Regions from separate parts of the Homo sapiens genome. Here region 1 is linked to region 2. Evidence: fine-mapped expression QTL. A gene starts in region 2. The other region holds a variant in brackets. All regions are shown on one strand. Distances are from middle to middle.

Region 1 (5,374 bases), 230 kb after region 2:
GGCAGGAGAATAGTGTGAACCCAGGAGGCGGAGCTTGCAGTGAGCCAAGATAGCGCCACTGCACTCCTGCCTGGGTGAAAGAGCGAGACTCCATCTCAAAAAAATAAAAAATAAAAAAAAAATAAAATCCAAGCAGAGGCCAGGCTCAGTGGTTCACATCTGTAATCCCAGCACTTTGGGAGGCCAAAGCGGGTGGATTATTTGAGGTCAGGAGTTCAAGATCAGCCTGGCCAGCATAGTGAAACCCCATGTCCACTAAAAATACAAAAAGTTAGTCAGGCTTGCTGGCGAGTGCCTGTAATCCCAGCTACTTGGGAGTCTGAGGCAGGAGAATCACTTGCATCTGGGAGGTGGAGGCTGCAGTGAGTCAAGATTGCGCCACTGCACTCCAGCCTGGGCAACAAGAGTTAAACTCTGCCTGAAAAAAAAAAATTGGCCAGTTGTGGTGGCAGGAGCCTATGGTCCTAGCTACTCAGGAGGCTGAGGCAGGAGAATTGCTTGAACCCAGGAGGCGGAGGTTGCAATGAGCTGAGATTGTGCCACTGTACTCCAGCCTGGGTGACAGAGCAAGAATCTGTCTCAAAAAAAATAAGTAAATAAAATAGGCCAGGCACGATGGCTCACACCTGTAATGCCAGCACTTTGCAAGGCCTAGGTGGTCGGATCACTTGAGGTCAGAAGTTCAAGACCAGCCTGGCCATCATGGTGAAACCCCATCTCTACTAAAAATACAAAACTTATCTAGGCGTGGTGACACATGACTGTAATCCCAGCTACTTGGGAGGCTGAGGCGAGAGAATCACTTGAGCCTAGGGGGTTTGCGGGTAAAGGGGGTGGAGAGGTGAGGGCGGAGATTGCAGTGAGCTGAGATTGTGCCACTGCACTCCAGCCTGGGTGATAGAGCAAGACTCTGTCTCAAAAAAAAAATTAATTCAATAAAATCCAAGCAGAAAGAAGGGTACAACATAAAGCAAGTCTTCCTCCACCCCAGGGGCAACTAATATTAATCATTTTCTTTCTCTATATAGTCTATGCCTCCATAATCAAAACATTCCCTTTATTATTTTCTTTTTTTTTTCTTTTTTTTTTTTTTTGAGATGGAGTCTCACTCTGTCACCAGGCTGGAGTGCAGTGGCGTGAGCTCGGCTCGCTGAAACCTCCAACTCCCAGATTCAAGCAATTCTCCTGGCTCAGCCTCCTGAGTAGCTGGGATTATAGGCACGCGCCACCACGCCCAGCTAATTTTTTTTTTTTTTTTTTTTTTTTTTGAGATGGAGTCTTGCTCTGTCGCCCAGGCTGGAGTGCAGCGGCGTGATCTCGGCTCACTGCAAGCTCTGCCTCCCGGGTTCACACCATTCTCCTGCCTCAGCCTCCCAAGTAGCTGGGATTACAGGCGTCTGCCACCACACCCGGCTCGTTTTTTGTATTTTTAAATAGAGATGGGGTTTCATCGTGTTAGCCAGGATGGTCTCAATCTCCTGACCTCGTGATCCGCCTGCCTCAGCCTCCCAAAGTGCTGGGATTACAGGAGTGAGCCACCGCGCCTGGCAATTTTTGTATTTTTAGTAGAGATGGGGTTTCACCATGTTGGCCAGGATGGTCCCAATCTCCTGACCTCATGACCTGCCCGCCTCAGCCTCCCAAAGTGTTGGGATTACAGGCGTGAGCCGCCGTGCCCGGCCTATTATTTCTTTAGGGAGAGGGGTCTTGCTATATTGTCCAGGCTGGAGTGCAGTGGTGCAATCATAGCTCCCTGCAGCCTCAAACTCCTGGGCTCAAGAAATCCTCCCACCCTAGCCTCTCAAGTAGCTAGGACTACAGGCACGCACCACCACTCCTAACTAATTTTTAGATTTTTTTTTTTTGTAGAGATGGGAGTCTTGTTCTGTTGCCCAAACCGGTCTTGTACTCCTGGGCTCAAGCAATCCTCCTGCCTCAGCCTCCGAAAGTGTTGGGATTACAGGCATGAGCTATTGCTTCCAGACTGTTTTTCAGAGACAGAGTTTTGCTATGTTGCCCAGGCTGGTCTTGAGCTCCTGGGCTCAAGTGATCCATCTCAGCCTCCCGAGTAGATGAGATTACAGGGGCATGCCACTGCAAACACATTCCCATTTTTTACACCAAAAGCAACACAATATACACATAGTTCTGCACACATTCCCGTTACTGCACTCCACTTTTTTTTTTTTCTTTTTTGAGATGGAGTCTCACTCTGTCACCCAGGCTGGAGTACATGGGTGTAATGTTGGCTCACTGCAACCTCCATCTCCTGGGTTCAACCGATTAAGCAATTCTCCTGCCTCAGCCTCCCAGGTAGCTGGGATTACAGGCCCCCACCACCATGCCTGGCTAATTTTGTATTTTTAGTAGAGACGGCATTTCACCATGTTGGTCAGGCTGGTCTTGAACTCCTGACCTCAGGTGATTCACCTGCCTTGGCCTCCCAAAGTGCTGGGATTACAGGCATGAGCCACTGTGCCCAGTCCTGAATTGTTTCTTGCATAAGATCCAAGAATGCTCTCTTGGGGTCTGGATCGAGACCCCTTTCCTGTAACACTTCGAACAATTTTGCAATCCTCAATGTCATAACAAATGACCTTGTCTACGCATTACCTATGGGGCAGACATGTTTGCAGGATTCCCAGGAACAAGGAAAAAGATCGCACTTCTTTTTGACAGCCACGAAGCTTCTGCCTTATGTCACTGGCTCCTTGCTAGTGCCCCTTGCAGGATTTTATTGGTTTTGGGGGTTGTTTTGAGAGACAGAATCTTGCTCTGTCACTCAGACTAGAGTGCAATGGCAGGATCATAGCTCACTGCAGCCTCAAATTCACAGGGTCAGGTGATCCTCCTGCCTCAACCTCCCAAAGTGCTGGGATTGCAGGCGTGAGCCAAAGTGCCAAAGTGCTC[A/G]GCCTCATTGAGGTTTTTTTTTTGAGATGGAGTCTCACTCCATCAGCCAGGCTGGAGTGCAGTGGCACGATCTTGGCTCACTGCAACCTCCGCCTCCCGGGTTCAAGCAATTCTCTGCCTCAGCCTCCCAAGTAGCTGGGACTACAAGCACACGCCACCATGCCCAGCTAATTTTTGTATTTCTAGTAGAGATGGGGTTTCGCCATCTTTGCCAAGCTGGTCTTGAACTCCTGACCTCATGATCCACCCACCTCGGCCTCTCAAAGTGCTGGGATTACAGGCGTGAGCCACCGCACCCAGCCGTGGTCTTTTTAAATCTTTCCTTCTAGGCCAGGCATGGTGGCTCACACCTGTAATCCCAACACTTTCAGAGGCCGAGGCAGGTGGATCACCTGAGGTCAGGAGTTTGAGACCAGCCTGACCAATATAGTGAAACCCCGTCTCTACTAAAAATACAAAAATTAGCTGGGCATGGTGGCGTGTGCTTGTAGTCCCAGCTACTTGGGAGGCTGAGGCAGAGAATTGCTTGAACCCGGGAGGCGGAGGTTGCAGTGAGCCGATATGACGCCACTGCACTCCAGACTGAGCAACAGAGCGAGACTCTTTCTCAAAATACATAAATAAATAAATAATTGTTTCCCTCTTACCAACAAGGCTGCAGTGGTGGTCCCTGGACCAATGCTGTGAAAGTAATGTGTAAGAAAACTTCTAGAAGGAGAATTATCTCAGGGCTGGGCACAGTGGCTCACACCTGTAATCCCAGCACTTTGAGAGGCTGAGGCAGGCAGATCACTTGAGGTCAGGAGTTGGAGACCAGCCTGGCCAACATGGTGAAACCCCATCCCTACTAAAAATACAAAAAATTAGCTGGGTATGGTGGCACGTGCCTGTAATCCCAGCTACTGAGGCTGATGCAGGAGAATCGCTTGAACCCAGGAGGCAGAGGTTGCAGTGAGCCGAGATCACACCACTGCAATCCAGCCTGGGAAACAGAATGAGACTCCGTTTCAGGGGAAAAAAAAAAAAAAAAAAATCTCAGGGCCTGTTTTTCTTATACTGAAAGCAGAGTGCTAGACCTGATGTGACAGTTGCAGGGGAGCCCAGTTCCCCTCTGAGGGAGAGTTAAGTAACACCCACCCCCAGGCAACCCAGGCCATTAGCGCTAGGCAAGGCACAGGAACCCCTCCTTTGGCCCACCCTCAACCGCCACTTGCAACTGCTACACGGCAGGGACCCAGTTGTTTGGCTCCAGCTGCCTGCCTAGCGGAGTGAAATGAATCTGGACAAAATGTAAACAGGGCTGAGTGCAGTGGCTCATGCCTGTAATCCCAGCACTTTGGTAGGTAGGGGCAGGCAGATCACTTGAGGACAGGAGTTCAAGACCAGCCTGGCCAATATGGCAAAAACCCACCTCTACTAAAAAATACAAAAGAATGAGTCAGGCCTGGTGATGCATGCCTATAATCCCAGCTATTTGGGAGGCTGAGGCATGAGAATCGTTCTTGTCTGGGAAGTGGAGGCTGCAGTGAGCTGTGATCACGCCACTGCACTCCAGTTTGGGAGACTATCTCAAAAAAAAAAAAAAGTAACTGAGGTTACTTCTGGGGAGAGGCACTTGGTGAAATTGTCACCTTTCATTTGTTATTTTACTTATTTTTTTTTTTTTGAGAAGAAGTTTCCCTCTTGCTGTCCAGGCTGGAGTGCAGTGACGTGATCTCAGCTCACAGCAACCTCTGCCTCCCAGATTCAAGCGATTCTCCTGCCTCAGCCTCCTGAGTAGCTGGGATTACAGGCATGCGCCACCACGCCTGGTTAATTTTGTATTTTTTAGTAGAGACAGGGTTTCTCCATGTTGGTCAGGCTGATCTTGAATTCCCGACCTCAGGTGATCCACCCGCCTAGGCCTCCCAAAGTGCTGAGATTACAGGCATGAGCTACTGCTCCGGCTTATTTGTTACTTTGCGCGCGCGCGTGTGTGTGTGTGTGTGTGTGTGTGTGTGTGTGTGTATCTTGGTATAATTTGCTACTTTATAGATGTCAATACTGTTGAATTTGTTACAAGGTGTATGTGTTACTGTTACAATTTTTTGGTTTTTTTTGAAACAGTGTCTCACTCTGTTGCCCAGGCTGGAGTGCAATGGTGTAATCATAGCTCACTGCAGTTTCCACCTCCTGAGCTCAAGGGATCCTCCTGCCTCTGCCTCCTGAGTGGCTGGGACCACAGCTTCACCCCACCACTCTTGGTTAATTTTGTGTGTGTGTGTTTTGTAGAGATGGGGTCTTGCTATGTTGCCTAGGCTGGTCTCAAACTCCTGACCTCAAGTGATTCTTCCTCCTTAGCCTCCCAAAATGCAGGATTACAGGTGTGAGCCATCATGTCTGGCCAACTGTTATAATTAAGCAGTGATCTTTCCAAAATGCAATCCTGGCCAGGGGTGGTGGCTCACACCTGTAATCCCAACAC
Region 2 (5,374 bases):
GCTAATTTTTGTATTTTTAGTAAAGACAGGGTTTCACTATGTTGGCCAGGCTGGTCTTGAACTCCTGACCTCATGATCCACCCGCCTCAGCCTCCCAAAGTGCTGAGATTATAGGCATGAGCCACCACATCCAGCCAAGCAATGGATTTTAATGACATTTCTCCCAGACATACACAAATGGCCAACAAACACATGAAAAGATGATCAATGTCAAGAATCAGCCATGGAGTTTTACCCAATGTCATTTTGGGTAGTTACTGAATAGTTTCCTCTCATAAAAAATATTCATAAACAAAATATAATTTTTTTCTTTTTAAAATTTTATTTATTTATTTAATAGAGACGGGGTCTCTCTATGTTGCTGAGCTGGTCTTAAACTTCTGGACTCAAGTGATCCTCCCACCTCGGCCTGCCAAAGTGCTGGGATTACAGGTGTAAGCCAGCATGCCAAGCCCTAAAGTTTTTGTTTTTTTGAGGAAAATTTTCACCCTGTCTCCCAGGCTGGAGTGCAGTGGTGCCCTCAAGGCTCACTGCAGCCTTGGATCTTCGGGGCTCAAGCGATCCTCCCGCCTTAGTCTCCCGAGTATAGTAGCTGAGACTACAGGAATATGACACCATGCCCAGCTATTTTGTTTGGTTGTTTTCAGTAGAGATGAGATCTTGCTATGTTGCCCTGCCCACTCTGGTCTTGAACTCCTAGGCTCAAGCAATCCTCCCACCTGGGCCTCTGAAAGTGCTGGGATTACAGGAGTGAGTCACTGTGCCTGGACTAAAATTTTTAAAAAATGTTTTCTTTCCCGTGTCTCTACTAAAAATACAAAAATCTGCCGGGCATGTCGGCACATGCCTGTAATCCCAGCTACTTGGGAGGCTGAGGCAGGGGAATCGCTTGAACCCAGGAGGCCGAGGTTGCAGTGAGCCAAGATAGCACCATTGCACTCCAGCCTGGGCAACAGACACAGTGAGACTGTCTCAAAAAAAAAAAAAAAAAAAAAGTTTTCCTTATTTTCAGAGGTGTTGATAACATTTTTAAATAGTGCTATTCATTTGTCTGTGGAAAAATGATAAAATATGGCAGCTGTTTCAAATGTAGCATGGGAAACACATAATTGATAAGGATGTCAATTGGCGAGGGGAAGTTGGTGTTTTTGAATGTGAGGAGAAAACCAGAAATTTAGGGATTTACTGTCATACCTGGGAAGAACTAGGCTGGGAGAGGGGTCCCAAAAACTCCCTCTTTGATCAAACTAGTCAGGCTCCTCAGAGCCCCCCTCTTCTTGAGTAGACTTTGGCCTTTTCCTGCAGAGCCCTGTGGTAGCAAAAACCCTTCTAAGGGAGTTTAGAGAAAATTCCCCCAAACCTGATATCCAATCAAGTCCCTTTTCCCTACGTTTGACAATCTCTTCCCTAATTCTTGACACTAAACCAACTTCCATCCTCTCCCTCACCTTGCCTATTAGCTGTAAATTCAATACTGTCGTTGATGCAGCCTTCACCTCCTGGGCTCAAGCAATTCTCCTGCCTCAGCCTCCAGACTAACTACAGAAGCGGCCATCATACCTGACTAATTTTTTTTTTTTTTAACAGAGTCTCGCTCTGTCGCCAGGCTGGAGTGCAGTGGCACCATCTCGGCTCACGCAACCTCCGCCTCCTGCGTTCAAGCGATTGTCTTGCCTCAGCCTCCCGAGTAGCCGGATTACAGGCACGTGCCACCACGCCCAGCTAATTTTTGTATTTTTGGTAGAGTCGGGGTTTCACCATGTTGGCCAGGATGGTCTCGAATTCCTGACCTCGTCATCCGCCCGCCTCGGCCTCCCAAAGTGCTGGGATTGTAGACGTGAGCCACCGCGCCCGGCCATACCCGACTAATTTTTTAAAATATTTTGTACAGACGGGGTCTCGCCATGTTGTCCACGCTGGCATCACCTTGCCTTACGCTGGAATGTTAAATATACTCTTTTAAATTGGAAAGGAAATGAAACCCAAATGTAAAGAAAAAAAAAAAAAAGCTCTATGGGGGCGGGGGGAGGGGGGCGGGCCAAACTCTGATTAAATTGTTGTGCCTCACAAACTAGCCTTGTATAAAAAACGTTGTAATCCTGTTAAATTTCTTGCCTATATAAGCAAGAACTTAAACTTTTAAATTTGAAACACTGAGCCCATTTCCGTGGATCCTGTGTTTTCCCAAATGGGCCATTCCCAGCTTCTTGCTTGAGTAAACTTTAAAAAACTGGAATCTGATTCTTTTATTTCAGGTTGACAAGTCCACATACGGCGACAGCATCACTGTAACTAATCAAGTATTTAATCCTGTTTGCCTCCTCATGCAACTTATAAAAGCCTTTTCTTCAATCACAAGCCATGACCGGGTGTTTCTCACTCGGAATCGCTGTTGCTCCAACAAACTCTTTAACTGTTAACAGAGCCTCAGTTTAATTTTTAGCAGAAGAAAGGCGGGACACATCCGACCCCCCATGACCCTCCCGTGGCCCCCGCACAATCTGGGAAGACGCCGGGCTGCGGGCGCGGAGCTGCCCAGAGAGGACTCCGGGGCCGGGGCCGCAGTCGCCGCGTAGGGACGGGACAGGACGCCCGGGGTCCCAGCTGCGGGCCCAGCCCCACCTGGCGGCCGAGCGGACCGAGGGCCAAGCCACGCCATGGGGGACGCGGGTCCCAATCGCCGGGGTCGCCCGAGCGGAGGCCTGGGTCCCGCCACAGCAGGATCCTGTTGGTTCCACCCAGCCCCTCTTCCACGTATCTGGACGCTAGGCCGGGCACTTTACCATTTCCCTGCTTCTTGGTGTCCCGGCGTCCTCTTTATGACTCCGGAGCAGGTCACAGCGCAGGTGACAGCGTCACAGGAGCCGTGGCGGAGGCACCTGGGGCCTCTCGGAGCAGCAAGGACTGGATGCAGAACGCAACGGACCCCAGCAACAAAGGAGTGCAGAGACTCTGAGTGCGGCCTTCTGCTTCCCCGGATTGACAGTTGGCAGGGCCCCGTCCCAGGGCCCCTGATTGGATGGGGTTCCAGGCTCCGCCCCTCAGCCCTGAGTGACAGGGTAAGCCCTGGGTAACGGAGCCCTGCAGAGCCCGGCTGATTAATCCTAGCTACAGCCTTTCTAAGGCTAAGCTCACTCCCTGCGCCCTGGTCGTTGGCTATCTGCATTTCAGCCAAACTTGCTACTTATTGTTAGAAGGGGCACTGTTAGCTTCCTCGATCTTTCAGAAATGTGTGCTGGGAATTCCAGACTCGGTGTTCAATGGAGTCATTCCTTTGCCTCATAGCAGGAAGGAAATCCAGGCCAGGCCAGGCCAGGCAAGACTGCACCAGGAGGGAGAGGCAGGTGTCCTCTACAGGGCGGGAATTGGGGATGAGACTTCCTCACACTCCCCCCGTCCCACCCCTGAATATGGAACCGCTTCCTCCCCCTAGACTTCATTTTCACCAGCAGAAGTTCTCACCTGGGGTCAGTTTAAGCTTCTAACCTAAGTAAACTATTACCTTCACAAACCCTTTCTCCAGGTGACATGTCAGACAAATCTTACTGAGCCTGATCTTCACAGATTATCTTTGTATGTACAAATTACAGTCTGTCGCCGGGACCCTTTGCACGTAAAAACCAAACACTGCCCCCGCAAAACGTCCCTAGGCTCTAGGTACAGCCCCAGTAAGGACAGAACCTCCCCCCAACCCCCCTACACAAAGTGCACCTGCACGTGAGTCTCCTGCTTTCCAGGGCTCTGTAGCTTCTCAGGATCCACATTCCTTCCGCAGCTGTTCTGAGCAGCTGGAGGCCACCTGCAGTAGAGGGCAGGCTGCCCGGGAAACACCCAGGGGAGCTCCCTTTCCCTCCCTTTGCCGGCTCCAGACTGGCCTCAGCAGGGTGTCACTGGCCTTAGGCTCTGCTGCCCCCTACAGGTTATTCACTTCATTGATCGGTTACCTGAGACAAACACCCTCAGTTCCACTGTACGTATGTATAAAGTGGGGAAGGAAAATTCTAAGATAATTGAAGTGAATTAAAAGACTTGCAGGCAGGGTGCGGGGGCTCACGCCTATAATCCCAACCCTTTTGGAGGCTGAAGCGGGAGGACTGCTTGAACCCAGGAGTTCATCATCCTGGAAAACGGAGCCACACCTCGTCTGTACTAAAAATTTAAAAATTAGCAGTGCGTGGTGTCCTGAACCTGTAGTCCCAGCTACTCGGGAGGCTGAGGTGGGAAGATCTTGAGCCCAGGAGTTTGAAGCTTCAGTGACCTATGATCTCGCCACTGTGCTTCAGCAAGAGTTGTGATAGTTGTATCAGATAAAATAGACTTTAAATAAAAAACAGTACAAAAAGACAAAGAAGATCATGAGATACTGATAACAGAATCAATTCAGCAAGATAATATAGTAATACTAAATATATATGCATCCAACATTGGAGAGGCCAAATTAATAAAGCAAATATTTCTAGACCTAAAGAAAGATATAGATAGCAATACAATAATAGTATGGGACTTCAGCACCTCACACACAGTAGTAGATATATCATCAAGACAGACAATCAACAAAAAAATTGGACTTAAGTTGGACTTTGGACCAAATGGAGCTAACAGACGTTTACAGAACCCAACAACTGCAGAATATACATTCTTCTCATCAGTACGTGAAACATTCTCCAAGGTAGACCATATGTTAGGCCACAAAACTAGTCTCGACAAATTTTAAAGTCAAAATCATTTCAAGCATCTTCTCAGACTGCTGAATAAAACTAAAAATCAATACCAAGAGGAACTTTGAAAACTGTATAAATACATGGAAATTAAACAATGTGCTCCTGAATGATCTCTGAGTCAAAGAAGAAATAAAAACAGAAAATAAAAATTTTGTTTGAAATGAACAAAAATGGCAACACAACATATCAAAACCTCTGGGATATAGGAAAAGTCATGCTAAGAGGGAAGTTTATAGAATTATATGCCTCTGTCAAAAAAGTAACAAATTAACAACCTAACATGGTACCCCATGGAACTAGGAAAACAAGAACAAAACAAATCCAAAGTTGGCAGAAAAGAAATAACAAAGATCAGAGCAGAATTAAACAAAATCAAGACTAAAAAACAACACAAATGATAAACGAAACAAAAAGTTGGTTCTTTGAAAATATCAACAAAAGTAATAAACTGCTGGCTAGACTAACCAAGAAAAAAAAGAAGATTCAAATGAACAAAACCAGAATTGAAAAAGAAGACATTACACCAATACCACAGAAATACCATCAGAGACTACTATGAACAACTATATGCTCACAACCTAGAAAACCTATAGGTTTTTTTGAAACGTATAACCTCCCAGGATTGAACCAAGAAGAAACAGATATCCTGAATA

Evidence for each region. PIP is the estimated chance that this variant, and not a neighbour inherited with it, causes the effect.
Region 1: its variant is fine-mapped to the expression of ZNF491 in T cells (TOPMed, PIP 0.99).

Annotation. Positions count from the first base shown.
Region 1 is chr19:11,568,971-11,574,344 of GRCh38, reverse strand. No RefSeq gene overlaps it. Among named protein-coding and RNA genes, the nearest start is that of ACP5, 6.0 kb to the left of the region's middle. The variant A/G (reference allele first, on the strand shown) is at 2,911.
Region 2 is chr19:11,796,137-11,801,510 of GRCh38, reverse strand. It overlaps ZNF491 (zinc finger protein 491), which reads right to left and starts at 2,988. Exons shown (of 3, transcript NM_152356.4): 1 at 2,784-2,988. RefSeq lists enhancers at 2,727-2,886, 2,897-2,996, 3,222-3,733 and a silencer at 3,827-3,996.